Linked DNA regions of Homo sapiens. The protein of the gene in region 7 interacts with the protein of the main gene of each other region in a pairwise test. Each region holds a gene or a part of one and is shown on either strand. Other genes may lie near its edges.

Region 1 (3,500 bases), on a different chromosome or scaffold from region 7:
TGTAATGCTAGGACTTTGGGAGGCTAAGGCAGGCAGATCATTTGAGGTCAGGAATTTGAGACCAGCCTGGCCAACATGGTGAAAGCCCCTCTCTACTAAAAAGTACAAGAGAAAAAAAAAATTAGCTGGGCATGGTATTGCACGCTTGCAACCCCAGCTACAAGGGAGGCTGAGGCACGAGAATTACTTGAACCCAGGAGGCGGAGGTTGCAGTGAGATAAGATTGCACCAGTGGACTCCAGCCTGGGCGACAGAGTCTTAACTCTGTCTCAAAAAAAAAAAAAAAAAAAAAAAAGGAAAAAAAAAGGCACCTGAATTCTGGACTCTATCTTCACATGTATTGTTTTTAATTTCTTATAGGCAACAGTATAGAGAATATGTGCATTTATTTTCAAGGACAGAGAAGGCAGAGCATGTTAAACTACCCTCCTACCCAATGACTCATGGATAAGGATAACAGAAACAGGAACAAAATAACAGGTGGGAGCAGGTATAAAGAAGTCAGTTAAAGAGCTGAAATCCTGGGCCCTGTTGGCAAAAAAAAAAATGCAACAAGAAGACGCCTGTGGGCCGGCTGCCGCACAGCCACGGGCCTAGATGCTTTCATAGGGCACTTCAAGACTAAGGTGCTGCTGAATTACTTGTTGCAGGGACTAGCAAATCTGGCCAGCTACCTGCTTTTGTAAATAAAGTTTTATTGGCACCCAGCCATGCTCATTCATTTATGTAATGTCATTCATTACGTAATGTCTGTGACTGCTTTCATACTAGAAGAGTTGAGTGGCTGCGGCAACTGGCAAAGCCTATTTTCTGCCAGGCCCTTTACTGAAAAAGTTTGCTGACTTCACCTATGCTAAACAACTAACATTTCGAAATTAATGTGGTCACAATTTTACCTAAGAAAGTTAACTTCAGAATGATACGGGCAACTTATTTCTTCCTCTATGCCTTTCTTTTCTCAACTGTAAAATTGGGATAACAATCATGCCTACTTCTTAAGACTGCTGGGCAATTAAATGAGCTGAGATAATGCAGGATTAAAGCACTTAGAATAGTGTATAAATACCAGATATCCATTAAATGCTACTGTAATGCAGCTAGGTACGTTTGGCTCAGGGTCAAATTCCCAGTGGAATTTAAAATGTGCTGTAACTCTAAATAAATGATGGTACAATTATGCAATGGATTATTCTGCAGCTGTAGAAAAGAATGAAGACATTTAATATACTGATATGGAAAAATCACCATGATATATTCATCAGGCAAAAAAAGAAAATGCAAGCTGCAGAACAGTGGGTATAGCATCTGCCTTTTATATTTTAAAAAGGAGGAAAATTAAGATTGTGTATTTGTACTTTCTCGTATATGCATAAAGAGACAATAACAAGCTACCAGTCGGGGCTGAGGAGCACTGGAAACCAGGCATAAAGGGAAGGGGTGGGATAGATTTTTCTTTGTGTAACATTTTATATATGTATATATATATATATTTTTTTTTTCCTGAAGGAGTCTCGCTCTGTCACCGAGGCTGGAGTGCAATGGTGCGACATTAGCTCACTGCAACCTCTGTCTCCCAGGTTCAAACAATTCTCCTGCCTCAGCCTCCCAAGTAGCTGGGATTACAGGTGTGCGGCACCACACCTGGCTAATTTTTGTATTTTTAGTAGAGATGGGGTTTCACCATGTTGGCCAGGCTGGTCTTGAACTCCTGACCTCGTGATCCACCCATCTTGGCCTCCCAAAATGCTGGAATTATTGGCATGAGCCACTGTGCCCGGTCCTTTTTAAAAACTTTTGAACCACGTGAATGGATTACCTATGAAAAAATTAAATTAAAAATGCTGTGTCTCAAACAGGTTAGAAGGGAGTACAGATGCTGTGCTCTGGAAATTGCTAGGTTAGTTCAAATGTGCCTCCCATGAAGACACCAACATTAAAAGGCACGTGAAGCATCTAAATGCGAGTCAAAAAATGCGAATGAAAAAACACATGTGATAAATATGATTTAAAATATGTATATACCATGGCATTAAATTAATGGTAAAACAAAAATTTGGCTGTCACACCTCTATCTTCAAGAGTTAATCTAGTCAAAGGCTGTTCTTAGGTTCTTTGCCTTTAAAGGAAAACATCTTGCATCTGGGCTTATACTTCATATTCTTCTCTAGAAATCCAGCAAAATGGAAACATGCAGAATACCTAGTGAAATTTCTCCCTCCTCCCCAACCACCCGACCCTTTTCTATGCATTTACATGCATGTATACAAACACGTTTATCCTATACCTATTATACCAAAATTTGCTTTTTTCACTAAATAGTGTCTTTATCTTTCTAGGATATAAACATAGATCTCCTTTTTCCTTTAATGGCTACATAGTATTTCATAGTATTTTCTAATTTATTCAACCATTATCTATTTGTAACCTACCTCCATTTTTTTTTTGCTATTTTACACTGTACTGCTATGAATATCCTTGTGCACACATCTTTCTACTTCTGCAAGATAAATACATAGATATGGAACTGGGCAAACTCGACAGAACTACTGAGGATGATTTAGATTTATAATTTGCCTCATAACAAATCAATTTCAGATAGAAGAGTTACATGTATTTTTAATGAACCAAATCAGAAGAGCTGACAGGTAATGGAATATTAACAATTAAAATACAAAAGCATTGGTATGCAACAAGATCTACAAAAAAGAAGAAAAATAAAATGCAAAGGCATCAACAGATGGATTTAACTCTAAAAGTATAAAAACTTAATACAATACAAATTCATAACACTAACAAAAAAGGATAAAGAATGCATAAAATGTTTGTAACACATATAAAAATGTACTAGTATCGGGATCCAATAACTAAATGCTAAATGGGCAATAAAAGGAAATTAAAAAGAGTAAAAATTAAAGTAATAGGTACTAATGTGTAACTATTAGCAATTTTTCCAGGTGAAGATTATCGTTACAATTAAAAAAAAAAGAAATTTTACAAAGCATGTCTTAAAAATAAAGACCGCTGGAGCTTCAGGGAAACCAAAGAACTGAGGGAAAAGCAAATTGGTAACACTGATTAAAATTGAAAATATCTGTGTTTTTTGATACTATGCTTGGAAATTTATTTTGTGGAGATAATTCAAAGGAAGGAAGGAGCAGGAGGTCTTTAAACAAAGTTGATCACTGCAGCATTATTTGGAAGTAAAAGGAGTGAAACCTAGATGTTAACAATAACACTTAGGATAAACGACACTATGTTGAAACACAGTTCACATTAAATTATTAGTTTTTGAGACAGCGTCTTGCTCTGACCCCCAGGCTGGAGTGCAGTGGTGTGATCTCGGCTCCCTGCAACCTCCATCTCTTGGACTCAAGTGATTCTCTCACCTCAGCCTTTCAAGTAGCTGGGACTACAGGTGTGTGCCACCACACCTGGCTAATTTTTGTATTTTCTACAGAGACAGAGTCTCACCATGTTGCTCCTGGGCTCAAGTAATCTGC
Region 2 (3,500 bases), on a different chromosome or scaffold from region 7:
GGCTCACACCTGTAATCCCAGCACTTTGGGAGGCCGAGGCAGATGGATCACAAGGTCAGGAGTTCAAGACCAGCCTGGCCAACATGCTGAAACCCCATCTCTACTAAAAATACAAAAATTAGCTGAGTGTGGTGGCAGGCGCCTGTAATCCCAACTACTCGGAAGGCTGAGGGAGAGAACTGCTTGAACCCAGGAGGCAGAGGTTGCAGTGAGCCAAGATCGCGCCACTGCACTCCAGGCTGGGCGACAGAATGAGACTCCATCTCAAAAAAATAATAACAAATAAATAAATAAGAATGAGTAGGGCTTTCTTCATCACTTAGAGCAGGAAGTTAAGATATATTATGCTGTTGGGGAAATAAAAGGACTAGATACATTATTTAATGTTATATATAGAAATAAAATTAATTTTACAAATTGTGGAAGGAGAATGAAGCAGAGGCCTCATCTTTCATTATGTTAACAGTAGTAGATCAGGTGCAGTGGCTCATGCCTGTAATTCCAACACTTCGGGAGGCTGAAGCAGAAGAACTGCTTGAGGCCAGGAGTTCAAGACCAACCTGGGAAACATAGCAAGACCCCCATCTCTACAAGAATTTTTTTTTAAAGTTAGCCAAGCGTGGTGGCATATGCCTGTAGTCCTAGCTACACGGAAGGCTGAGCTGGGAAGATCACTGAACCCAGGAGCTCCAGGTTGTAGTGAGCTATGATCACACCATGGAACTCCAGCCAGAGCAACAGAGCAAGACCTTGTCTCTAACAAATAAATAAATAAATATAAATTAAAACTGGGCTGGGCACAGTGGCTCACGCCTGTAATCCTAGCACTTTGGGAGGCAGAGGTGGACAGATCGGGATCGTTTGAGCTCAAGAGTTCGAGACTAGTCTGGGCAACATGGTGAAACCCTGTCTCTACTAAAAATACAAAAATTTAGCTGGGTGTGGTGGTACACACCTGTAATCTCAGCTACTCAGGAGGCTGAAGCACGAGAATTGCTTGAACCCAGGAGGCAGAGGTTGCAGTACGCTGAGATTGTGCCACTGCACTCCAGCCTGGACAACAGAACAAGACTTTGTCTCAAAAACTTTAAAAGAAAAAAAAAAAAAATATATATATATATATAGACACACATATATATACATTATATATATAGACATATATCTACATACATATATACATACATATATACACATACATATATATGTGTATATATATGAGGATTGCTTGAGCCCAGGAGTTAGAGGTTACAGTGAACAATGACTGTGCCACCGCACTCTAGCCTGGGCAACAGAGTGAGACCCTGTGCTTAAAAGAAAGAAAAATTAAAAAACAGCAGTAGCAGAAACAGCCAACATTTATTGTGATCACTTATGTGCTGGATACTCTTGTAAACAGTTTACATGAATCTTTAAATTCAATGTTCAAATTATCACATGTGGTAAGTCCTGTTATTATGTCCATTTTAGAGACAAGGAAACTGAGGCAAAGAATAGCTTAATAAGCCAAAAAACACATGAAAAAATGCTCATCATCACTGGCCATCAGAGAAATGCAAATCAAAACCACTATGAGATATCATCTCACACCAGTTAGAATGGCAATCATTAAAAAGTCAGGAAACAACAGGTGCTGGAGAGGATGTGGAGAAATAGGAACACTTTTACACTGTTGGTGGGACTGTAAACTAGTTCAACCATTGTGGAAGTCAGTGTGGCGATTCCTCAGGGATCTAGAACTAGAAATACCATTTGACCCAGCCATCCCATTACTGGGTATATACCCAAATGACTATAAATCATGCTGCTATAAAGACACATGCACACGTATGTTTATTGCGGCATTATTCACAATAGCAAAGACTTGGAACCAACCCAAATGTCCAACAATCATAGACTGGATTAAGAAAATGTGGCACATATACACCATGGAATACTATGCAGCCATAAAAAATGATGAGTTCATGTCCTTTGTAGGGACATGGATGAAATTGGAAACCATCATTCTCAGTAAACTATCGCAAGAACAAAAAACCAAACACCGCATATTCTCACTCATAGGTGGGAATTGAACAATGAGATCACATGGACACAGGAAGGGGAATATCACACTCTGGGGACTGTGGTGGGGTCGGGGGAGGGGGGAGGGATAGCATTGGGAGATATACCTAATGCTAGATGACACGTTAGTGGGTGCAGCGCACCAGCATGGCACATGTATACATATGTAACTAACCTGCACAATGTGCACATGTACCCTAAAACTTAAAGTATAATAAAAAAAAAAAATTAAAAAAAAAAAAGAATAGCTTAATAATTTGCTCAAGGCCATGTAGGTTAGAAGCAGCAGAGGATTAGAAGCCAAGCTGTCTGAATTAAGACCTGTGTTCTTAACCACCCATGATACACTGCCTCATATGAACAAGTCAGGAGATACCTTGTAAAGTTCACAAATCAAGATATAAGTATGTAATGTATAATTAGTGCTAACTACCCAAATAATTAAAAATAAGCAACTACATTCACTCAGAGTAAAGAATGGGGAGGGGATCCAACTGTGTACTTAATACCATTCTCCATTCTTTGAAATTTCCATCTATTCCATGAATTACTTTATTAGTAAACAGGATACAGGAATAAATGGGCAGGAAAAAAGTTATATACCTAACCTGAGGCATATAACTAATCTACCTAAGATGTAGAAAACTACATCTTACGTTATGCAATTGGTTAAACTGCAGGGGAATAAACAACAAAGCAAAACCAAAAATCTCTCTCCTCAATAGCTATAGCATTTCCTTGTTTCTAGTAAAACACTTAAACAAGGCCTCAGGATCCCCACCTATAACAAACCACTTCAAAATCCTACATAAGGTAAAAATAATCTCAAGATACAAGAATGTTTAATGCTCTTCTTAGATTCTGTATTTTTCCCCTCTGATTTTATACTAACATACACACATTTTCACTTTAAAGAATCTCATTTAGGAGGCTTCATTTTAAAGGAGTATATGGCAGTATTTGTTCATTTAAAAAATGGCATGGGGAAAACAAAACTGACTTTGAAAAATTCCCTTTATTAACTTACTGATTACCTTTCAGGAAATGTTCCAGCCACCCTCTCCTTTTTAGTTGTTGTAAGTCTGTGACACACCATTAAGGACCAAATCATGCACCATGTGCTTACAGCATAGCTCCTCTTCCTAACCTTTTCCTTTCTTCCTCGCCCAACTGACTGATACATGCAACCCAATCCAGAAATCACCACACATTTGGTGGTAATTCCCCTGAATTTTACTTGCAAATGACAAAAATGCAAAAATGTCAATTTGCTTAATTTTCCTAAAGACAAGGGCAACTTCACACCCGCCATCTTTTTAGGTTTAGAGCTAAGAGGAAATACCAAACAGATGGCTCACTCCTCAAGCCATCATAACCTATGGGCTGGAGTGAACATGGTGATTGCCTGTCCCACATCCATTTCACTCCTGGCCTAGTGAACC
Region 3 (3,934 bases), on a different chromosome or scaffold from region 7:
TAATGCCATTCTGTCATGGCTGGAAGCAGAAATATATTTGTTTTTATTAATATAAAACAAATTAATATAAAGCACTCCCTGTTTCTCTTCTTTTATCCTTATGCAGTCTATCTTGATGATCTTATCCACTCTTAAGAGTTTCAATACTCTTTCTGTTTCCTTACTTTAACTTTTGTTTTTTTTAGACGGAGTTTCACTCTTGTTGCCCAGGCTAGATAGAGTACAATGGTGCAGTCTCGGCTCGCTGCAACCTCCGCCTCCCGGTTTCAAGCCATTCTCCTGCCTCAGCCTCCTGAGCAGCTGAGATTACAGCCCCCACCACCACACCCAGCTAATTTTTTTGTATTTTTAGTAGAGACGGGGTTTCACCATGTTGGCCAGGCTGGTCTTGAATTCCTGACCTCAGGTGATCCACCCTCCTTGGCCTCCCAAAGTGCTGGGATTACAGGCGTGAGCCACCACACCTGGCCTACTCTAACTTTTTATTAACTTTTCACCTACTAAAAACAAATTACTAAGATGTTAGAATGTATTTGTTTACTTTGCTCTTCTTTTTAGTTATCTTTGCATGAAGTATAATAATAAAAAAAATAAGACAACAAAGAGAAAAAATATAATGGAATTTCTGATACTGTGAAGGGTAAAGACCATCACACAATTTGGACAAGGTTTTGGGGAAGATGTGGTCATGTCATATTCACAAAATATATCTGGGTAATAGTCTATTTCTCCCGTGATTCCAGGCATATGCACCCAACAGTCCATTTCGTTATTGCTTATCACTGCCCAAAAGTTCCAAGAAATGATGAAGTCAGTCTCATTTGGCATACATCTACTTTTTCAGAAGGAAACAAAGCAGAGAAAAAATTCCGAGAGAAATTCATAGCTAGTAACCACTCTCACTTTTATTTTAGTTTCCATAACTGAAATTGCTGGACTTGAGAGCAATTTTTCCTTGCTCAACAGAATTAGGTGAGATGGGGAATCAATTTAATATATATTTAGTGAGCATCTACAGTGTCATGGGGCAAAAAAATAGCAACTTACAATATTAATTTCTATAGGCAGCCCCCAAATTTGAATCATTTCCTGAAAAATTACTTCTGCTTTTGTGAAGTTTCCTGCTAGCAGTTTAGAGATTGGGCTGTTTCCTCACTGATACATATCCCTTCACACTTCTATAATTTAACTCTCTCAACTGCATGTGAAAGATCTTAGCTGAAGATGACTGACAGTGTTATTTATTCCATGTTAGAGTTGCCTACGGCAACCCAAGCCCAGAATGACTATGGACCACAGCAAAAATGTGAGTTAACCAAGGTAGCATGGAAGACGATGCATAGCAACAGTAGGCTATGGATGAATGGGGAGTAGAATAAGTTTAAAGCAGAGGGTGCAGAAGAATTGAGGATAATTTGAGGAAATACTTTTGGTTCAGTTTAAAGTCCAGAGTTGGAATATGAAAAGTTGGTGTATGGTACAGGATCTGATCTTAGGTCTCAGGTAAACTCTTTTCTAACTGTTCACTTCTTTGATCGCATCTTAGAAACCCAACTTAGGGCATTGCCGTTATTCCTTCTTGCTCTTAGCTAAAGCGGGAACTTTGTTGGGAGAATTTTATCTCTTTAGTTATATTCGGAGTAACCTTGGACCAGCTGTTTAAATTCTAGGTATGGCTGTTTTTCTGACTATGGAATGAGGAGGACACCAATAGTTTTGCTGGTGGATACGAGTAAGATTTTTGTCAGGAAAGAAACTGATTTACATATCTAGTTTTGTTTTTTTTTTTTAACTTCACAGTGTTGCACTAGAATGGTGACAGGGAAGAAAAAGTATCAAGAAACTACAGATAATAGTCTCTGTGACTGAGGATTTGAAGGCAAAAGAGCCATTTTTACATAGAGCCCTGAGAGAATATTATCTGAGACAGACAGGTAATAGTGTAAATGCCAAAATTAATCCTTGATTTTGTATCGTAGGCAGTGAACTCCCACAAGGTGTATTCTTTAGGGTAGTTCCCTAAGCTTTCTCTCTTTTTACTACATAGTTTTACTATTATAATTTTTAATGTCTTTTGAGAGTGTTGCCTTAATTTGCTAAATCATTCTAGTATACTTGGGATATTTAGACCTATTTCTATTACCATAAATTATATAGCATTGGATATCTTTATTTGTGTAACCTTTTCCTATTTTTGAATTGTATCTATGTTAATTTCTAAGGAATAGAAATATTACGTTAGAAGTAATGCATATCTCAAAGTATATGTTCAAGGTCACACACACAACTGGTGATAAATTGGAACCTAGTTGGAACTATTTAGAGGCTTTCAATATATACTTAAAGTAAATTTTAAAAATTTACTTTACTTCTTGAATTGGCTTGTGGTTACACAAATTCAATTATGGTTTGATACCTTTTTAAAATTTAGCATAACATAAAAATGAACATTTGTGTATTTCATTAAATGTTCTCCTGTGATGCAAATGTATTTTTAAAAGTTTTTCTAGAAATCTTAATGCTTTTGGATTCATCAGTCCAAATATTTATTATGCAGAATTCTCTATTTATGAAGGCATCTCTCATTATGAATTTTTTTCTTTAAGAAGTTCAGAATACTCCATAGATACACACATATATAGAATAATTTATCTAAAATTTAATCAGAAAATTGAAGCCCAAATAGGCAAGTTTAATTTCCTAATTAAATGTTATTAAGCAAAGGAATCAAAATTAGAAGTTAAATATCATCTTACTTCACAGAGTTTTGCTCGTTACACGTAATTTCTACACTATTGCACTATGAGATACCTTTGATTTTAAAATAAAGATTTGCTGAAAATACTTCCATTTTTCAAATTTAAAATTTAGATTTCGGTTGTATGCAACACAGCTAACATGAAGTAGTGTCCTATTCTTAAACTTGGCATCAACTTAAACTTACTGCTCTTTTAATAACGACAGTTTACAAAGCACTTCTGAAATGTAGATTATTTTTATTTAAATTTTATGTATTTCAATTTCGAGTAGATAATATGTTTACATGGTTCAAAATTCAAAAGGTACAAAAGAAAATAGGGTAAAAAGTCTTTTTCCTATTTTGTCTCCAGTGACTGTTTTTTCCATTCCAGAGGCAAACAATGTTATCAGATTCTTGAGTGTGCTTGCAGAGATATTTGTATATCCTGTTCTGCAGAATGTTTCTTTGTCTTGACTATATATCTTACAAAATATTCCATATCAGTTAAAAAAAAAGCCAGTTTTTATTAGAAGCTATATATTCACTTTATGGATATATCAAAAATGTATTTGACTGGCCTTTTACTGATAGAATGTAGATTGTATTCAGTCTTCTCCTCCTACAAATATTGCTGCCACGAATAAATATGACATTTTGCACCCGCGAGTATCTGTAGGAAAAATTTCTTAAGGAGAAATTTCTAGGTCAAAGGGTACATGCCTTTGCCGTTTTGGTAGATATTGCCCAATTGTCCTCCAAAGAGGTACCAATTTGTATTCTCACCACCTAAGTATGAGACAGTGTAAGTCACAGTTTCAAAGGAAAAAAGCATTCTTTATCTTGATAAATATAGTAAGTTCTTTGATACAGGTGTTGGTGGTTACCTTAGACTTTAGAGCAAGTTCCTGACACATCTAGAAAAGGAATCTTTATGGCCTGGATCTCAGTTCCCACTAGGCCAAATTGCTTTAAGATGCGATATCCTTCCCTGACTTTCTCTTTTCTTTCAACCTGTCATCTGACTCAGGATTGTGCTTTGACTCTGTTGTTGCAGCTTCCTCTTCCAGGCCTTCTTGTTCTTGCCTTGTGGCAATAGCTTTGGGGCTTCTGACTGCAGTTCTTCTGAGTGTGCTGCTATACCAGTGGATCCTGTGCCAGGGTAAGTGCAAACTTAAACCAAAATTAATCTTTCAT
Region 4 (3,405 bases), on a different chromosome or scaffold from region 7:
AAAGCAAAAGCAGTTCAACATGATAAATGTTTGATAAATGTTGTGGGTTTAGCACAGGGATTCTTAACCAGGAAACCAGTTCTGGGAAGGAATACCAGATTCACCTATAGACCATTTTCACAGTTTACTATTCTGCTTTTCTTTCCACCCTTCTTCTGCTGATTTTTTCTCTGATACATTTCTAATCTAGACATTGTTTTCTGAATGACAGCAATAGCTTTTGATACCTATTTTTTGATACCTATTATTTGATACCTATTATTAGGGAAAAGGAATTTTCCTCTCTAATTTCCCAAATGGATGGCTAATACATTTTAGTTACAATAAAACTCAAACTAGAGATTTACTTAGACTGGAGTGAGCATATGGATGAAATGGGATGTAATGTTGAACTTGAAGCATGTAGAGGTTTACTGAGACAGCTTCACTTAGAAAGGGAAGGACAACAGGGACAAAGTCACAAAAGAGAAGCAGCCAGAACAGAACTACATTATGGAGAACACGGAAAACTAGGCCCTTAGGACAAAGGTGACAAATTAAAGACCTCAGACAACCATCACGTATTTCAGCAGCTACTATTCTTGTGAAAGTAGGTTCTAGGGTGACTGTCAATAGATTTGGGGCTACTTCAATGATCCAAGATACAAGAATCTAGCCTGCACCGTTAAAATGAAGGGACTGGAAGTAAGAAACACATAAAGGCAAATACAATGGGAATTGATGACTAATAGCATAGGAAAGTCCCTGAACTTTGCTTTGTAAAGCTGTTAAAACCAAGGGTTTTCTAATGTGGATCACAAGGATTCTATCATCCTCAGGGATGATATGGGTGGGTAGAGGCAGCTTTATGAAAAGAGAATGAGCATCATTCAAGGCCCTCTTCCTCCACTTCAACTAGAGCACTTACACTTTTATCTTCTAGATTTATTGGGGTTTTAGGTAAGAATTGATTAAATAAAACCTTTATTTCTTTTATAAGCAAGTGTTAAAGTCATGAATCTACACTATAAACCTTTCAAAGCTAAAACCATGACTCCTTTTTGTTGTAATCCCACCTTCAGCCTAATTCATTGCAGGCACTCAATAAATTTTGACAAATCCTACCAGAGACTTGGGAAACTTACAATAGGTCTTGAAATCATTTGTCTTGTACCCCTCAAAACTCACTCTAGACATGTATTATCTAACATGATAGCCACTAGGCACATGTGATTATTAAAATTAAATAACACTAAAAATTCAAGTTCCTTAGTCATACTAGTTATCTTTCTCTCCCCCGACCAGAGTCTTGGTCTGTCGCTCAGACTGCTCTGCTCACTGCAACCTCCGCCTCCTGAGTAGGTAGCACTACAGGCACAAGCCACCAGGCCTGGCCAATTCTTTATTCTGTTTTTTTTCCTTTTTCAGAGACAAGGTTTTGCTATGTTGACCAGGCTGGTCTCAAACTCTTGGCCTCAAGCAGTCCTCCCACCTCGGCCTACCAATGTGCTGGGATTACAGGCATGAGCTATGATTCCTTGGCCTAGTTAATTTTCAACTGCTCAATAGCCACATGAAGCCAGTGGCCACCATTTTGGACAGCACTTACATGAAATATTCCTGTCATTATAGAAAGTTCTACTAGACAGTGCTGCTCCAGACAGATTTCAATGACTATATGAGTACTGGGTTATTTATAGGCTACCTGGGGAACATAATAAAACATTAGGGTCACTAACTTGCCATATACTTATATTAAATATCACAATATTTCAGAAACTAATTTGGACTTCTGACATCTTAACAATGATCTCTAACAACAAAAATAATATATTATTTCCTCAAATTATCTACACAAAATGACAAATTCACTCCAGTATACGAATTAAAGATGATTTAAAAAATTTAATAAATACCCCAAGGAATATATTTCATCTGCCTATCATCTACTGCAATGGCTGGCATATTTGCCTCCCTTTCTCACCTGCACTTTCCTTAATGGCAGGAACTGCAACTTATTCACCCCATCCTCAACACCCAGCAAAATTACTTGATAAATGGTAGGCCCACAGTAACTATTCATTCAATAGAAATAAATTGCAAGCAGCTATTGAATACTAAAGAACAAAACTGGAAATCTCCTTTACCATCTCTGAAAGTTATCAGAAGCAAAAAACACAACTCTTTTTGCAAAGTAGACACTGCTGTGCAAAGCCAAGCAGTCCTACTGGCTTGCTATGATCTTACATGAACATCAACCTCTTCGTGCTACAGTTTAATCATCCACAACACTGGGGGTGATCATGGCACTTTGCTTACAAGGTTATTGTACAGATAAATAGCTATTACATATTTAATGCCAATGGCTAGCATTGAAGAAAACTATTGTTGCCTGAGGAGTTTCTTGGAGGCCTTGACAGTGGAGCGGAAGTGCTGGTGAATGGTACTCATTGAATATGAATACTTACTGAGGCTGCTACGTTTATGTTATACTGGTTATCACTCAGGAGTGGCTGCCCGGTTATGGTTGTATTGCAATGCAAATCATGCAGGGATGTGGCTGCTGCTTCCAATAAAAAGGCTCCAAAATAGAAGACAAATACTGTAAAATGGTAGGCAAAATCCTAAAAGAGGAGAGAAAAGACATCTGCAATTAAAAAAAAATATTTTTCTGTTCCTTATTTTAAATAATGAAGTTTAGGTTTAGCAAGATCAAAACATTTAATTAAACAATCTTAACTATATTCACTGTTAAGCTTAGCTGCTTTAGAAATGTTAGACTATCAGAACCCAAGCGAAAATCAACTGACCCATCTTAATTGGCACATTGGTAAACCTTTCCATATACTGAATTTTATAATATGTAATTTTATTTTTTTATTATTATACTTTAAGTTTTAGGGTACATGTGCACAATGTGCAGGTTAGTTACATATGTATACATGTGCCATGCTAGTGTGCTGCACTCATTAACTCATCATTTAGCATTAGGTATATCTCCTAATGCTATCCCTCCCCACAACAGTCCCCAGAGTGTGATGTTCCCCTTCCTGTGTCCATGTGTTCTCATTGTTCAATTCCCACCTATGAGTGAGAATATGTGGTGTTTGGTTTTTTGTTCTTGCGATAGTTTACTGAGAATGATGATTTCCAATTTCATCCATGTCCCTACAAAGGCCATGAACTCATCATTTTTTATGGCTGCATAGTATTCCATGGTGTATATGTGCCACATTTTCTTAATCCAGTCTATCATTGTTGGACATTTGGGTTGGTTCCAAGTCTTTGCTACTGTGAATAATGCCGCAATAAACATACATGTGCATGTGTCTTTATAGCAGCATGATCTGTAGTCCTTTGGGACCCAGTAATGGGATGGCTGGGTCAAATGGTATTTCTAGTTCTAGATCCCTGAGGAATCGCCAC
Region 5 (3,354 bases), about 15 Mb from region 7:
CCTGTGGAACAGCGAGCACTGAGGCCAGGGGGTGCTTCCAAGATTGCTCCGAGGGCTCTTCTGTCAGCCTAGGGCAATGGGTTAATAAACTCATGGTCCACAGTAGGAAGAGTTTTGGTGCTTCAAAGAAAACACAGGTGTTCAGATCTCTGAAGAGCGATCCTGGAGCCCAGAGTTCCCCACGTGAACTCAAGTGGACACCCAAAGGCCTCCAAGCCTCGTCACCTTATCCTACCATGTTCCTGAACAGCATGGTGGCAGTGATGGCCTTCGGAATGATGAGGCCAAGGTGAGCCAGGAGACTGCTCCTGGGCGGGGTTTGGCCCCAGGACTACCTTGGATCTAGGCTTGTCGTCGCTGTAAGTGGTAACACTGGGCCGCAGCTAGGAGCAGGGCAGGGTGGCTACCATGGCACCTGCTCCTTCCATGTGCAAGCCGCCACCCAGAGCAGATGTGCAGCAGCAGCTGCGGGCAGTCATGGAAAGAGAGAACAGCGGGAGTTGAAATTCTCATAATTTTAATGATCAATAGCTTCTGGTGGGCTCTGGATGGTACAGTTAAACAATAGACTTAAAGACCTCCCCCAAAGCACGTCCACACCCCCTCGGCAGCGTCTGCCTCCATCAGCATTCCACTGCCCAGTCGGACTTCCACAGCCTCAGACCCCCCTCTTGGGTTATGGAAATCCACATCTTAGTGTAATGAGCTGAAAAACCCTGGGTACACCCGTGATCTGTTATTTTTTAAAAATAACAAATACTAAGCCAAACACCTGCCCAGGCTCTGCTGCCTCACAGAGTGTGGCGATCTGAATACTCTGTTGTCTCTTGTGGGCCGGGTGGTTTTGCTTCGCTCCCTGTTCTACTGAAATCATACGGCATAGAGTTCGTAAATCTTCTTTACACAGTACACCAGGGCGGCCAGTGCTATCGTGTTGTGCAGTCTCTTTCTGTGCAGGTCGTCCTTCCGGACCAGCACCACCGGGGTGGAGGAGGTGAGTGTGTGCAGAGGCAGGCGCGACAGTTTATAGGCGTCGTACTCCACTTGGTACTTGCAGCAAGGGTCAAACTGCCAGGAGATCCCATAGAGGGTGCAGCAGGCCAGGCTCAGCACACCAGCGGGCAGGGAAATGTAGTGGGAATAATCTAAGGGCAGCGCCAACGGGGTGAAGAGGCAGGCGGTGCCCGCCAGCACGGCCGTCTTGTGCAGGCAGTTGCCCACGGTGATCCAGCGGGCTGTCTCGTCGCCAATGCGAGTGGGCTCAATCACAATGTACTTGTACTGGGCTTCCAGGGCCTGCTCCAGCTCGTACTCAAACTGGTCTTGGGCATTCTCCCCATTGTAGATCTCATGCACAATGTAGCAGTCTGTGGCCGACAAGCTCACCCTTTTGATGGAGGGGGCAGGAAAGGGAGAGAGAGAGAGAGACAGGATGATTAGGCTGAGGAGCACTTAACTGTGTTTCAGCGCTGGGGGAGGTCTGAGCCTGCACTGCGGAGAGCACATCTCACTTGGGTCCTCATCTCCTTTAAATCCCAACACAAGATAATCAGTAAAAAGGATTTTTCCTGAAAATAGTGAAATAAAGCTGGGTGTGGTGGCTCACACCTGTAATCCTAGCACTTTGGGAGGCCGGGGGGGCGGATCATGAGGTCAGGAGTTAGAGACCAGCCTGGCCAACATGGTGAAACCCTGTCTCTACTAAAGATACAAAAAAAAATTAGCCAGGTGTGGTGGCGCATGCCTATAATCCCTGTAATCTACTCGGGAGGCTGAGGCAGGAGAATCACTTGAACCTGGGAGGCGGAGCTTGCAGTGAGCCGAGATCGTGCCATTGCACTCCAGCCTGGGTGACAGGGCGAGACTCAGTCTCAGAAAAAAAAAAAAAAAAAAGATATAAAAAGGCAGGAAAAGCAGTGCCTCGACGTTTAACATGACAAACACAGGCCTGGTGGTTAGCCTAAGGCTGTGGACCAACTGATCTGAGTCAGCAAAGGAGCCTAAAGGGGAAAGAACGATTCGGCACAGAATCACAGGAGCACACACGGCAGCAGAGGGCCAACAGCCTGAAAGCCATTCTTAGTTAATCAGGGCAACTGCAAGAGGATTCTTCACTGGAAACCACAGACCTCAGGACAGATAATGCTAAGCCCTTGCCCTCCGCACGTTTCCTAAGTAGTCATCCTGGGCCTGCAGAACAGAGGCAGAAAGGAAGAGCTTTGCCTTGGGCGAATGAAATCCAAACTCCTTTGGCTCTCCTGGAGGCCAGGCTGCACAAGCCCTGGGTGCCCTTCCTGGGCCGGCAGCAGCCCCCAGCTCCTCCCCGCTGCGGAGGGGAGAAGAGGAGACCCAGGACACTAGCCCACTGCATAGGAAAAGCGACCCTTTCCTTGAATTAGGAAAAGACAACGCTTCAAGAACAGTAGTGGGCTCCAAATTTAGTAAGCAGGAGGGTCAACTGAGGGGCTTCAAAACATCCAGCCCAGCAATGCCACCAATTCTGGCCCTGTAGGCCCAGGCCCCTGCACCACCGGCAAATGCCACTCATTTGCATAAGAAACACTGCCACGGAGACCACACAAGGGGCTTTCCCCCCCGGGACTGGGGATGCATGTCATGACCCCAACCAGCAGGAGAGTAATCCACCACACGGAACGCTCAGCTCTGCAGCAAGGCCAGACGGCAGCCCGGCTGCAGCCCCAGCAGTGACCGTGGGCCAAGCTGCATTTCAGGCAGTCTTGCTTTTCTTGGTTTCAGGCCTCTGCGGTACAAATTTCCCACCCAAAGCAGAATCTTCTTCACCTGTGGCGGGCAGGCCTGAAGACAGGGCTATCCATGCCTTGTCATCTTTCCTTGGCTGGTTTCAGCTGAGACAGATCTCTCTGAATCTCCGCACCGTCACCCCACATCCTAGTTTTCCGTTATCTGCTCATCTGCAAGAAGTCTTTATCTGGGCCTTGACGGGGACACTGCTAGACATAGCTCTTGAGGCTGGATCAAGTTTTCCAACTCATGGCTCCCAAGGCTGCACAGAGCCATGTTCTGTCACATGCCTCAGGGAAAAGCTGCCCCTTCCCTCAGCACACCCTGGTCCCCAGGATGGTCGGACCCATCTGACTAAAGGACACAAGGCTCCAGGGACCTGCTGGTCACTGCTCCCCTGCTGGAGTCCATGCCCTTCCAACTGGGAGGCTCTGGAACACTGTACCAGGCAACACAAGGGTCAATGTGGCCCATGTACCTGAAGCTCCGAATGTGCCTGACAGGAACTAGCTTCCTTTCATGGCTAACGAGAAGCACAGCCCTCAGTGTGCACAGACGCGAAGGTCCCGTCCGCCCAGCCTGTCCTGGCAG
Region 6 (3,500 bases), on a different chromosome or scaffold from region 7:
AACAGAGAAAGACCCTGTCTCTAAGAAAAATTTAAAAAATTGAAATGTAAGAACAGTCATGAAGCCAGATTGCCCAGGTTTTGCCCCTTACTACTGTGTGATTTTTGGCTGATTAACCTGATTATTATTTTCCCCATCTAAAAGCGAAGATGATGACAATAGTGTCTGCCCCATAAACTATCATGAAGATTACATAAGTTCACATACTTATGTGCTTATAAATAGTACCTGGTACTAAAAGTATAAAATAAATGTTATCTATTATTATCTTTTTTTTTTTTTTGGAGGCAAGGTCTCAGTCTATCTTCCAGGCTGGAGTGCAGTGGCATGATCACAGCTCACTGCAGCCCCAACCTCCTGGGCTCAAGCGATCCTCCTACCTCTCAGCCTCCTGAGTAGCTGGGACCACAGGTATGCACCACCATGCCTGGCTAATTTATTAAATCTTTTGTAGAGACGGGGGTCTCCCTGTGTTGCCCAGGCTGGTCTTGAACTCCTGGGCTCAAGCAATCCTCCCACCTCGGCCTCTCAAAGTGTTGAGATTATAGGCATGAGCCACATGCCCAGCCCAATTATCATTATTATTACAAGATCTTTATTACAAGGCTGAGATACAGACGCTAGCTGGCTGAACTTCTGGCTCCTGTTTACCAACTTTCTAGCCCACTCAATTCAGACCCTTGCTAGCTCTTTTCATCATCCTATGAGGCGTGAATTATTTGCCCTGTTGCAAATTCTTACAGTGCTGTCTGAAAAAGAGATATGCTAGTGTAATCTAGAAACTGGAAGAGCACTGTAGAGACAAATAATTCGGGATTTTAATGACTCTCTTGCAGGGAGAAAGGCAATTGAACAGGATGACTCACAAGGTTTATACTGAAAAAGCTTAGAGCTTTTTCTAAGCGCTTAGATTATTTTTTAGTGACCAGCTCTATAAAAGCAGTGATCAGAGCCCATGCTAGCTAGACCTAAAAAGTAATAGTTGTAACACAGATGTATTTAAACTGTGATAAAAAAATTAGACTATACACATGAAATTGGTTTGAATTACCTCGGCTTTAGAGAGCTGCCTGTCATTGTCCATGTCTATTTGTTTAAATGTCTCAATGCTCCGTGGTCCTTTGGTCACAGCATAAAGTTCAATCTCAAAAATCAATGTAGCATCCGGTGGAATCTTGCCTTCTGCTAAGGGTATAAATTTTAACAGTTTAACTTATGTAAAGATATAGTTCAAATATCTATTCATGAACTGCCATAACCATATTATATTATTTCATGTTGATAAGAATTGCTATCTGAATACTCACAATTTTTAATTTTTTCTCATCTTTTATAACTTTTTTCGGCTTTTCAATAGTTTTCTTTTTTGTTTTTTTTTCTCTTTTTTTTATAAATACTTTTTTAGGAATATTTTTTCCATATGTTTCCAAACCAAGTCAATTCAAAGGACCTATGGGACCACTATTTCTTGATTAATTTAAGTAAAAATCATAAACTTTTTATTAATGCATGGATATGACCCTCTATATCTGTGGGTTCTGCATCTGTGGATTCAACCAGTCTCGGCTTGAAAATATTCATACAAAAAAAGGATAGTTGTGTCTGTAATAAACATGTACAGACTTTTGTCTTGTCATTATTCCCTAACCAATACAATATAACAATCTTTTACATAACATTTACATTGTATTAGATATTATAAGTAATCTAGAGATAATTTAAAGTACACCGGAAGATGTCCAGAGGTTATGTGCAAATGTGATGCCATTTTGTATCAGGGGCTTGAGCTTCTGTGGATTTTGGAATCCATGAGAAGGTCTTGGAACCAATCTCTAACAGGTACTGAGAGACAACTGTACTCTCCTATCATCAACACAGAAGAGAGGTGGCACAGAGAAGAAATGCATGGGCAGAAAAATTGCAAAGCATAGATGAGTCATCTTTTAGAAAGTGATTTTGTGTAGTTATTTGGAAGCATAAATAAAACATAAGTATTAATATATTTGTCTTTCAAATTTTTTATAGACATTAAAAAATAAGTGCAATGATAGAAAAATCCAGTAACAGGCTGGGCACAGTGGCTCACACGTGTAATTCTAGCACTCTGGGAGACCGAGACAGGAGGATCACTTGAGCCCAGGAGTTTGAGACCAAACTGGGCAACATAGTGAGACCCTGTCTCTATTAAAAAAAAAAAGAATTAAAATAAAAATTCAGTAACAATTTTACAAAGAAATTGTATACATTTTTAAGCAATAAGTTGAATACCTATTTTTATTTTTATTTATTTTTTTTGAGACGGCGTCTCACTCTGTTTCCCAGGCTGGAGTGCAGTGGTGCAATCTCCGCTTACTGCAGCCTCTGCCTCTTGGGTTCAAGCCATTCTCCTACCTCAGCCTCCTGAGTACCTGGGATTACAGGTGCACACCAGGCATTGCATTATTAGTAGAGATGGGGTTTCACTATGTTGGCCAGGCTAGTCTTGAACTCCTGACCTCAGGTGATCCGCTTGCCTTGGCCTCCCTAAGTGCTAGGATTACAGATGTGAGCCACTGTGCCTGGCCAGAATTGCTCTCTTTAATTAAGTTAACCTATTAGCTGATGTCACAGATTTTTTTTTTTTTTTTAGACAAGAATCTTCCTCTGTCACCCAGGCTGGAGTGCAATGGCACGATCTCGGCTCACTGTAACCTCTGCCTCCCAGGTTCAAGCAATTCTCCTGCCTCAGCCTCCCGAGCAGCTGGGATTACAGGTGCCTGCCACCAATCCTGGCTAATTTTTTATACTTTATTAATAGAGATGGGGTTTCACCATGTTGGCCAGGCTGGTCTCAAACTCCTGACCTCAAAGGATCCACCCACCTTGGCCTCCCAAAGTGCTGGGATTACAGGCGTGAGTCACCGTGCCAGGCCATGATGTCACAGGTGATTTTAATAAGTGATGGGCTATTTCAGATAAATATGTCATAAAAGTGACTTGCAAAAATGACTTGCTAAGGGGCAGCGGGTAGCTTGTGTCATCAGTATATTGCCAGTGTCCTACACAGTGCCTAATCTACTACAGGCAGTCCAATATTTGCCGAATGAATGACCCATATCATTTATTTTTAAAATGTTTGTCCTTGGAAGGAAACAGCAATTTCTTTAATAAAAAAGTGAAGCATTCTAGCTAAAGTCTTTATATAGTCTGAAGAGAAAAGAGTTTGTGAGTTATAGCCAAAAGGAGTAGCAGATTAGTAGTTTTCAAAGAGAAAACATAGAAAGATCTACCCATGCATCATATGACTAACATAAAAGTCCTAACCTAATGCACCACATATTACCTGACTTTAGAGTAGAAGAGCTAGAGATTGAGTCAATGATTGTTTTATAAAACCCATTCCTATTTTTTCCAGTTATCTCCTTATGACAGAATTATTGTCTCCTGACAATAATTCAAGGCAAACTCAAAACACAAATTCAAATTTCTTTTCTTTTCGTTTTTTTTTTTTTTTGAGACAG
Region 7 (2,441 bases):
AGAATCGCTTGAACTCGGGAGGCAGAGGCTGCAGTCAACCGAGATTGCGCCATTGTACTCCAGCCTGGGCAGCAAGAGTGAAACTCCATCTCAAATTAAAAAAAAAAACAAAAAACCAGGCGCAGTAGCTCACGCCTGTAATCCCAGCACTTTGGGAGGCCGAGGCGGGCGGATCACCTGAGGTCAGGAGTTTGAGACCACCCTGGCTAACATGGTGAAACTCCGTCTCTACTAAAAACACACAAAAAATTAGCTGGGTGTGGTGGCACATGCCTGTAGTCCCAGCTATTTGGGAGTCTGAGGGAGGAGAATCGCTTGAACCCGGGAGGCGGAGGTTGCAGTGAGCTGAGAGCACACCACTGCCTCCAGCCTGGGCAACAAAGCGAGACTCCACTCTGTCTCAAAAAAAAAAAAAAGACTAGCCTGAGCATCATGGTGAAACTCTGTCTCTACTAAAAATACAAAAATCAGCCTGTAATCCCAGCTACTCAGGAGACACGAGGATCTCTTGAGACCAGGAGGCAGACATTGCAGCGAGCTAAGATTGCGCCACTGCACTCCTGCTTGGGTGACAGAGTGAGACCCCCATCTCAAAAAAAAAAAAAAAAATTATCCATCAGAGCCCTGGCCAAGGAAGAGCCCAGCCTTGCCCATACATTCATTTATCTGCTGATCCAGTCAATTAGTCAATAGTTATTAAGCACCTAGCATGGGCTCTGTTCTAGGCACTGAGGACAGGGCACTGAACAAAACAAAACAGACCAAAATCCCAGCCTTGTGGAAGGGCAGGTGGGGATGGACTCACTGAGGTGACATTTGAGTGCAGACCTGAAGGAGAAGGAGGAGCACCGTGCAGACATCTGGGGCAAGAACATTCTAGGCAGAGAGATCAGCAAGCACAGAGGCAGGTGCCTCCCTGGCATGTTTGAGAACAGTAAGGTGGCCAGTGGGAAGAGAGGCGTCAAGACAGAAGAAGGAACAAGAGCCACATGAGGTATGGTCTCCAGGGCTACTGGAAGGACTCTGCCTTTGAATCTGAGCGGTACAGAGGCTTTGAAAGGTTTTGAGCAGAGAAGTAACATGGTATGACTTCAACAGAATCACTCTGCCTGCTGTGCTGAGAGCCAAGAGCAGAAGAAAGGAGGCCAGGTGGGAAGTTTCTGCAATAACGGTCAACAGATGATGGTGACTTGCTTGGGCCAGAGTGGTAGCAGTGGAAACAGGCAGAAATGGTGATAATACGGAAATAACTTTAGTTAAGGATGATGCCAAGGTTTTTGACCTAAACAACCAAAGGGATGGAGTTGCTCCAGAAGGAACAAGCGCTCAGTTTTAGAAATGTTAGGTTTGAAATGCCCGCCTGACAGCAAAACAACAACAACAATAACAACAACTGTGCAGTAGGCAACTAGATGAGTGAATCTGGAATTCAGAACCAAGGTCCAGGCTGGAGTATACACTTGGGCGGGAATTTGAATTCAGATAGTATTTAAAGCCATGAGACTAGATGAGACCAACAAGAAATGAACATATACAGAAAAGAGATCCAGGACCAGGTGAGGTGGCTCACGCCTGTAATCCCAGCATTTTGGGAGGCTAAGGCAGGAGGACTTCTTGAAGCCAGGAGTTTGAGACCAGCCTGGGCAACAAAGTGAGACCTCATCTCTACAAAAAAAAAAAGAAAAAGAAAAAAGAAAGAAAAAAATTAGGTGAGATGGTGTGCACCTGTATCTCCAACTACTCAGGAGGCTGAGGTGGGAGGATGGCTTGAGCCCAGGAATTCGGAGGCTATACTGAGCTGTGATTGTGCCACTGGACTCCAGGCTGGGCAACACAGCAAGACCCCATCTCTCTCTCTCTCTCTCTCTCTTTTTTTTTTTTTTGAGATAGAGTTTCACTCTTATTGCCCAGGCTGGAGTGCAACGCTGTGATCTCGGCTCACTGCAACCTCCGCCTCCTGGATTCAAGCAACTCTTCTGCCTCAGCCTCCCGAGCAGCTGGGATTACAAGTGCCCGCCACCATGCCCAGGTAATTTTTGTATTTTTAGTAGAGACAGGGTTTCACCATTTTGGCCAGGTTGGTCTCGAACTCCTGACCTCAGGTGATCCACCTGCCTCAGCCTCCCAAAGTTCTAGGATTATAGGCGTGAGCCACCGTGCCTGGCCAAGACCCCATCTCTTAACAACCGCTCCCGGCCAAGACCTCATCTCTTTTTTTTTTTTGACACGTCACTCTGTCACTCAGGCTGGAGTGCAGTGGCACAATCTCGGCTCACTACCACCTCCACCTCCCGGGTTCAAGCGATTCTCCTACCTCCGCCTCCCGAGTAGCTGGGACTACAGGCACGAACCACCACACCCAGCTAATTTTTTGTATTTTTAGTAGAGATGGTGTTTCACCGTGTTAGCCAGGATGGTCTTGATCTCCTGACCTCATGATC

Evidence for each region.
Region 1: the proteins of MRM1 (region 7) and VKORC1L1 interact in binary tests that used the Homo sapiens proteins (3 or more experiments, as listed by UniProt).
Region 2: the proteins of MRM1 (region 7) and NXPE3 interact in binary tests that used the Homo sapiens proteins (3 or more experiments, as listed by UniProt).
Region 3: the proteins of MRM1 (region 7) and KLRG1 interact in binary tests that used the Homo sapiens proteins (3 or more experiments, as listed by UniProt).
Region 4: the proteins of MRM1 (region 7) and MAL2 interact in binary tests that used the Homo sapiens proteins (3 or more experiments, as listed by UniProt).
Region 5: the proteins of MRM1 (region 7) and TMEM11 interact in binary tests that used the Homo sapiens proteins (3 or more experiments, as listed by UniProt).
Region 6: the proteins of MRM1 (region 7) and FKBP7 interact in binary tests that used the Homo sapiens proteins (3 or more experiments, as listed by UniProt).

Annotation. Positions count from the first base shown.
Region 1 is NC_000007.14:65,949,574-65,953,073, reverse strand, and holds part of VKORC1L1 (vitamin K epoxide reductase complex subunit 1-like protein 1), read right to left. Parts: intron 1-3,500. UniProt on the Homo sapiens protein: Involved in vitamin K metabolism. Can reduce inactive vitamin K 2,3-epoxide to active vitamin K, and may contribute to vitamin K-mediated protection against oxidative stress.
Region 2 is NC_000003.12:101,796,211-101,799,710, reverse strand, and holds part of NXPE3 (NXPE family member 3 isoform 1 precursor), read right to left. Parts: intron 1-3,500.
Region 3 is NC_000012.12:8,988,412-8,992,345, forward strand, and holds the start of KLRG1 (killer cell lectin-like receptor subfamily G member 1), read left to right. Parts: upstream 1-1,134; 5' UTR 1,135-1,224; coding exon 1,225-1,306; intron 1,307-1,800; exon of another isoform or gene 1,801-1,934; intron 1,935-3,794; coding exon 3,795-3,899; intron 3,900-3,934. UniProt on the Homo sapiens protein: Plays an inhibitory role on natural killer (NK) cells and T-cell functions upon binding to their non-MHC ligands.
Region 4 is NC_000008.11:119,239,363-119,242,767, reverse strand, and holds part of MAL2 (protein MAL2), read right to left. Parts: intron 2,604-3,405; coding exon 2,448-2,603; intron 1-2,447. UniProt on the Homo sapiens protein: Member of the machinery of polarized transport. Required for the indirect transcytotic route at the step of the egress of the transcytosing cargo from perinuclear endosomes in order for it to travel to the apical surface via a raft-dependent pathway.
Region 5 is NC_000017.11:21,197,454-21,200,807, forward strand, and holds the end of TMEM11 (transmembrane protein 11, mitochondrial), read right to left. Parts: intron 1,388-3,354; coding exon 871-1,387; 3' UTR 501-870; downstream 1-500. UniProt on the Homo sapiens protein: Plays a role in mitochondrial morphogenesis.
Region 6 is NC_000002.12:178,468,601-178,472,100, forward strand, and holds part of FKBP7 (peptidyl-prolyl cis-trans isomerase FKBP7 isoform a precursor), read right to left. Parts: intron 2,925-3,500; exon of another isoform or gene 2,837-2,924; intron 1,186-2,836; coding exon 1,052-1,185; intron 1-1,051. UniProt on the Homo sapiens protein: PPIases accelerate the folding of proteins during protein synthesis.
Region 7 is NC_000017.11:36,604,583-36,607,023, reverse strand, and holds part of MRM1 (rRNA methyltransferase 1, mitochondrial precursor), read right to left. Parts: intron 1-2,441. UniProt on the Homo sapiens protein: S-adenosyl-L-methionine-dependent 2'-O-ribose methyltransferase that catalyzes the formation of 2'-O-methylguanosine at position 1145 (Gm1145) in the 16S mitochondrial large subunit ribosomal RNA (mtLSU rRNA), a universally conserved modification in the peptidyl transferase domain of the mtLSU rRNA.